Linked DNA regions of Homo sapiens: region 2 is reported to be linked to region 1. The links are microRNA targets in miRTarBase. Many come from high-throughput screens and were not tested one by one. Region 1 holds a microRNA gene; the other region holds the end of a gene's coding sequence.

Region 1 (3,525 bases):
TCTGGAAAAGGCTAAACTATGGAGACAGAAAAATGATCAGCGGTTGCCAGGGGTTTAGGGTGGGGGAGGGGGGATAAATAGGCAGAACTCAGAGGAATTTTAGGGCAGTGAAACTATTCTGTATGATACTATAATGGTCATGCATGTCATTATACACTTGTCAAAACCCATAGAGTATATAACACAAAGAGGGAACTCTAATGTAAACTATGGTTTACATTAATAATTATATTTAAACTATTATTTAATAATAGTTATAATACATTATAATTATACTATTATTTAATAATAATGTCTCAACATTAGCCCATCAATTTTAACAAGTGTACAACACTCATGCAAGATGTTAATAGCGGAAACTGGGGTGTCTCGAGAATATATAACAACTCTATACTTTCCATTCAATCTTTTTGTAAACCTAAAACTGCTCAAAAAAGTCTATGAATTTTTAAAATATGAAAAGAAACTAAAAGAGCCATTTACACATAAGGAAATTTTGATGCTAAAAATCATCCTGTGTAACACAGAAATCCCCCTAGTAATGACAGAATAGAAATTTTAAGTCATTTAAACCAATGGTTCTCAAACTTCAGTGTGCATCAGAATCACCTGGAGGGCTGTTAAAACACAGATTGCTGGGCCCCACCCCTGACTTTCTGATTACCTAGGTCTGAGGTGAGGCCTGAGAGTTTATTTCTAACAAGTTCCTGGAGGATGCTGATGCTGCTAGTCTTGGGCATCAAGAGAGGTATAAAGTCTGATAAAATAAGACTAAGGCTGAGCAGTAACCAAAATGAGATTTTAGAGTATACAAAAGATAAGGAGCACATATTAAATAACCTGAATCTTTACTGCAGGTTAGATTGGGAGAATCTGGGAGAGAAGAAGGACCAAGGATCAGAATCTATAAGTCCCAAATGTTTAAGAACTTGAGGACTGAAATGGAGTGTGTGTCTCTTTCTGTCTCTGTCACCACTATTTATAATACTGTATTGCTACGCTGACCTGAACACTATAAATTTGCAATGGGCAATGAGCAAAAATGATAAGATGGGGAGGAATGAATAGATCAGCTTAGCTAAGAAGAGAGTAACAACTGAAGAATACTGCTGAGGTCACAGTAGAAAGCACTCAGGCTCAGGCGCTAAGGATGGGAGGAGGGGAGTGAATCAGATCATGGGCACCTGTACTCCCTAGGTGAGAGAGAGAGAGAGATGGAGAGACGGACAGAGAGAGCGATAGACTGAAACAGAGACATGTATAGTCCATCTCTATTTGACTAAAGTAAGGTAATATAAAGATATAGGCTGTTCTCATTTCCATATTGTGTGGGGTGCATACAAGATCAGCAATAAGAAGGGTCCCTTGCTCTTCACCCCCTCTAATTCAAGAAGAGTCTGTAATAGACATCTAAAGGCAGCTCACAGTTCTACTCAGGATGTCCTGGAAGATAAAGGGCAGCTTATAAGCTCAAACTCCTATACATTCTGTAAGTGTAAATCTTCATGAATGTGTGCATCTCCCTGTCCTCAGAGGGGACAGAGTGGGGGGAATAGGAAGACTCTCTCTTTGGCCCCCATCATTTGTGCCCGTCTGAATTTTTCTTCTAAAGCTGCCCATCAGAGAGCACATCCAGTGATTTTGACTCTCGTTTGTCACTGCATCCTTAACACTAAAAAGAGTATCTGTCACACTCTAGAAACTCAAGATATAGGAAGGCAAGAAAAGAGACATATATGCACTCAGTCCATATATATACATATAGGTAGGCAAGGCTCCATCTCATTGAATCCTTGGCTTAATACTTGAGACAGCACTCACATCTAGGTTGGAAGGAAGTGAGGGAGCAAATCAGAAGGCTCTGGTTCCCGCCCACCACCCTGTGTGTGGACAGCAGGTGGGGAACACAGAGAAAGCTCACTGTCTCACTCTGGATACCTGCATACATGGACATTATTTAATAAGGACATTTATTCTAATACACAGACAAGCCCACCAGAGCACCTGAAGTCCCTAACTATTCTGTTCTGTGCTTCCCCAACACACACCCATCACTCAAAAACTATGACAGGGGAGGGTGGGAGGGGTGATGTCTAGGCTCTCTGTCCTTCTTGGTACAGTTGAGCTCCCCCTCTCTGAATCCTTGCCCAGGTGCATTGCATTGAGCCAGCACTAGCACCCAGATAGCAAGGATTAGAGAGGGGGAGCAGGGCAGAAGGCTTGGGCACCTGCCGTGCTCGAAGCAGAGAAGGTTCTCTGTTACACAGCTCTGTGTGAGAACAGGAATGAGAGTCTTGCATTGTGTATATGTTGGGAGAGGGTGTCAATAAGAAGTCCCATGTTGTGGCCCACACTAACTCAGCACGTGCAGGAATATTAGGTGACAAAAAGTCAAGTCTCCTACACATATTCTTTGAGGCAAGAACCAAGTCCATCTTGTGTGATACCATATGCCCACTGCCCTGGCAGCACAGCGTTAGCATGTACTAAGTGCTCAATACTTGTGAAAGGGAGGTAGAGGGGAAGGAGAGGGAGGAGGAAGTGTGACTCACAGGCACTTTGTCTGTCTATGGGCAGAAAAAGGCCCCTCTGAGAGTCCTGGAATAGGTGCTGCACTGAGACAGCATGCACATTTAGGTGGCAAGGATACAAGGGGAAGCAGAGCAGCAGGCTCAGGATGTGCACACCACATATATTTGCACAGGTACCCATGTCTGTGGGAGGGAATAAAGAAAAGCCTGATTTCTGGCACCCTGAGCCCATGTATTCACAGGAAGTTGGATGACATGAGGATGCTTATTCTCCATGAGCCTGCTAGACAGTAAGGTCGGCATCTCTGACAGGTTAGTTTACTGTGGCATTCCCAAACAGCAGGAATTCAGTAAATTTGTTAAAGGGATGAATAAATGAATGGACCAAAAACATGCACACACAAATGACTGACTGAAAGAATGAACAAAGGAAAGAGAAGGGATGGACAGGCTCTGTCCTACACATAGGCAAGGCTCACAAGCTGGTATCCTTGCACAAGCCCATTGCACTGCTAAGACAGCACTTGTGCCTAGGCTGCAAGGCTAGGAGAGGGCAAGCAAAAATCAAAGTCCAGGCACCTGCACACCAGGCATGCATCTGAGTGTGTGTGGCAAGGAAACTTGCAGGCAAGTTTAGATAATAAGGCTCCTTCCTTTCAGCTTTGTACAGAAATGTTTCTACACTTACACATGTGTGTGTGCACATGCATGCACAATGTGAGCATGTGTATTCATAAGAGAATGAGAAGGCTCAATTCCTGACACACCTGTGTCTGTTGCCTAGGCCTGGGGAAGTCTAGGCACCTAATACCTCCACTAGATAGGAAGTCCCGGAGAGAGACACTGTCCATTATTTAGCAGGGTACTCCCAGCACAGCTCATGGCACATCAAAAGTGCGCAATAAACACGGGCTACTTGGATTGTTCAGCAGAAGATTCACGATGACAAGGCTCACCCTCCTGTAATCCATGCACACAGGAGGTGTTTTGAGAA
Region 2 (3,000 bases), not on the chromosome of region 1:
AAAAATTGTTTTCCACAAAACCGGTCCCTGGTACCAAAAAGGTTGGGGACTGCTGACAAGGAGTATGAGTGTGAAAGGTGCAGAGGTCTATGCCAGGAGACAGCCATCCCCAATAGAAGCCCTCAGCTATGCACAAACTGCTTAATGTCATTCAAAGAAAATAATGTCGCCCATTTTGCCTCAGAGCTTTAGCCCCAATCACAGCAACTGCTATTTCCTGACGCTTACGCACCAGAGATGGTGATAAGAGCACTGCACGCATTATCTCAGTAATCCTCATAACAGCCCAATGAGTTGGCATTACTATCCCCAATTTATAGATGAGGAAACAGGCTCAGAGAGGTGAAGTAATCTGACCAGGTTACATAGCTAAGTGGAGTCAGGATCTGAATCCAAGAAGACTGTCTCTACAGCCCATGCTCTCAATAATCCATCCTGGGCTCCTCCAGAACCTGTGGGAAACTCAGAGGATGCCAAATGATAAATTCCTAAAAACCTCACTCCATTATATATGGGAGGAAAGAGAGGACACCTCTGTGAACCTGGAGTGATTCATCCCATCAGGGCACTTAGAGATGCTCCTCTTTGAAAGGGGAAAGAACCATCCCCAGATGTGGGGTGATCCCACATCTGCTGTATGTTTGAAGGTGATAAGCAATGGACAGTTCACCTCTGGAATGCCTGAGGAAAAGAGACCCTCCCCACCATCTCTGAGGGGCAGCCCTATTTCTTGGATACATTAGGGAAACCCTGCCCTAGGATCTGAGGGAAACACAGTCTCCACTCCAGGTGCCTGCTCACTCTCCTGGAGCTTCTGGCCGTCGCACCCTATTGCAGCTCCTGGGTTTGGCTGGGGCACAGGATTAACCATCCCCAGGAAATGCCTCCCTCCGGTCCAGGCAGGGATCCCAGCATACACACCCCTGGTGGTGGCAGTGGGGGAGAAAGGGGGAAGGTGGAATGCTTCCTTCTCTCCAGGTCAGGGAAGAGATCTGGGGACCACCTGGGGGCCCTCGCCCCTCCTGCCTCCTTGCTGGGGAAGTGCCCAGTCCAGTGCCCCCTCCATGGCCACCTCCCTCCCTCTAGCTGTGCCGGGGCATGAATCAGCTCTCACAGCTTGTTAAAGCTAGACCTCTTGTTTTCATGCCCTCACCTCAGGAAACAGAGTTACAACTTTTCCAGCTCTACTCAGCAGGGGGCCAGGGTCCTCACTTTATAAACATCCCCAGCCTGTGAGAGCAGAGGGCAGGGAGATAGTGTGAGACAGGAGCCCAGGGGAGAAAGACAGAAACTAAGACTCAAGGAGCAACGCAAAGCAAAGTCAAGGAGTCAAGACCAGAGTAGCTGAGCAGAGGCCAAGAAGGGTCTGAGAGGGCTGTGCAGCAGCAATGGCCCTAAGGATGCTCTGGGCTGGACAGGCCAAGGGGATCCTAGGAGGCTGGGGGATCATCTGCTTGGTGATGTCTCTACTCCTCCAGCACCCAGGAGTCTACAGCAAGTGCTACTTCCAAGCTCAAGGTAAAGTGGGGTGAAGCGTTAGGAATGGAGGAGCAGCAGAGAGGGCACAGGGAGGATGGGGCCTTACAGATGATCCCGTGTCAAAATACCCAGGCTTCCTCCAGCTGTGAAACAGGAAAGACAAACTAAATACGGGGATAGTGCGTACTTACTGTCTCCACCCCAGACCAGAAGAGCCTCTGCCTCTCATCAGCACTCCTACACCTACTAACATTTCCCGTTCTTCCCTAGCCCCCTGTCACTATGAGGGGAAATATTTTACCCTGGGTGAGTCTTGGCTCCGCAAGGACTGTTTCCATTGCACCTGTCTGCATCCTGTTGGCGTGGGCTGCTGTGACACGTGAGTGACCAAAGATGGCCAGAGAGAATGACTCTGATATGAGTGACTGAGGGATGACCAGGGAGTGACTAGATTGCTGTGATGTAAGAATGAACAGAAGAGCAATACAAGATGGGCCAAACCTGAAGGGACCAACACTAGTGTGAAAGATAAGGCTTCAGGCTATAAATCAGGGGAGGTTGGGGTGGACCTGGAGAGAAAATACTCCTGTTATAAAACAAAAAGGCCCACATATGGTAGGTGACAGCTTAGTTAGGAGGACCAAGGGGCCACTGAAAGGGGCTCTGTGGGGGGAAAACTGTGAGAGAGGGAACATGTGGGCAGGGATAAAGGCAGCCTTTCACTGTGCTGACTCCTTCCCCTATCCTTGGTTCCCCAGGTCCCAGCATCCCATCGACTTCCCGGCTGGGTGTGAGGTACGTCAGGAGGCAGGAACCTGCCAGTTCTCCTTGGTGCAAAAATCTGACCCTCGGCTGCCCTGCAAAGGGGGAGGGCCTGACCCAGAATGGGGCTCAGCCAACACCCCTGTTCCTGGGGCTCCTGCTCCCCACTCCAGCTAAACTCAACTGATCATCCATCTGCTGACTGCTCACTGCTGCTGCCACTTCCAGGGAAACCACTAGCAGCTGCCAATGTATTCTGAACAAATAAATTAATGCTATAGCTGAAAGCCCGACTCTCACTGTCCACGACATTGGACCCCAGGTGGAAAAAGTGGGTCCCATTAGAGTCCAGGTGCTGAGTTCTCAGTATCCGGAAGGAACTAGCACCAGGGTGGGCCAGTTTCAGATGGTTATGGTGCTGGTGCTGGGGCCTGGGGCAGCATATGAGGCCAGGGTGGGGCTAGTAGGCAGCACCTTGATGGGCAGGTCCCAGCTGAAGGTGTCTACAGGTACTTGCTCAGGTCCTGTCCAGGTGGTAGGTTCGGGCTGTTCCACAGGGGGTAGGAGTACCAATCCTGGTTCTCGGGACGTTACAAATTCAAAATGCAATCTCCACTTCAAGGACACTATGGAAGAAAAAGATTAAGGTAGAAGCATCAGAAGCTAGCAGGAGTAAAAGCCAATGACAGGATATAGTTAGTGAATGAGAAGAAAACAATCTGTGTTCAGGAAGACAGGGAAAAGTCACAGGGCAGGGAG

Evidence for each region. Region 1 holds the annotated microRNA hsa-miR-502-5p (AUCCUUGCUAUCUGGGUGCUA, at 2,174-2,194, opposite strand). A microRNA usually pairs through its seed, bases 2 to 8, with sites in the 3' UTR of a target mRNA and lowers its output. Matches are read on the target gene's strand: a 7mer-m8 pairs with bases 2 to 8, a 7mer-A1 pairs with bases 2 to 7 and ends in A, and an 8mer does both.
Region 2: the mRNA of RGP1 is a reported target of hsa-miR-502-5p. Seed matches in the 3' UTR shown: 7mer-m8 at 1,028-1,034.

Annotation. Positions count from the first base shown.
Region 1 is chrX:50,013,282-50,016,806 of GRCh38, reverse strand. It overlaps MIR502 (microRNA 502), which reads right to left and starts at 2,209; the gene lies at 2,124-2,209. All of the region lies in intron 3 of CLCN5 (chloride voltage-gated channel 5), which reads right to left. It overlaps MIR660 (microRNA 660), which reads right to left; the gene lies at 3,470-3,525.
Region 2 is chr9:35,752,518-35,755,517 of GRCh38, reverse strand. RGP1 (RGP1 partner of RAB6A GEF complex) reads right to left here. Exons shown (of 9, transcript NM_001080496.3): 9 at 1-2,867. The coding sequence ends at 2,644. It overlaps MSMP (microseminoprotein, prostate associated), which reads left to right and starts at 1,242. Exons shown (of 3, transcript NM_001044264.3): 1 at 1,242-1,518; 2 at 1,750-1,858; 3 at 2,238-2,528. The coding sequence starts at 1,389. The coding sequence ends at 2,418. RefSeq lists an enhancer at 1,429-2,628.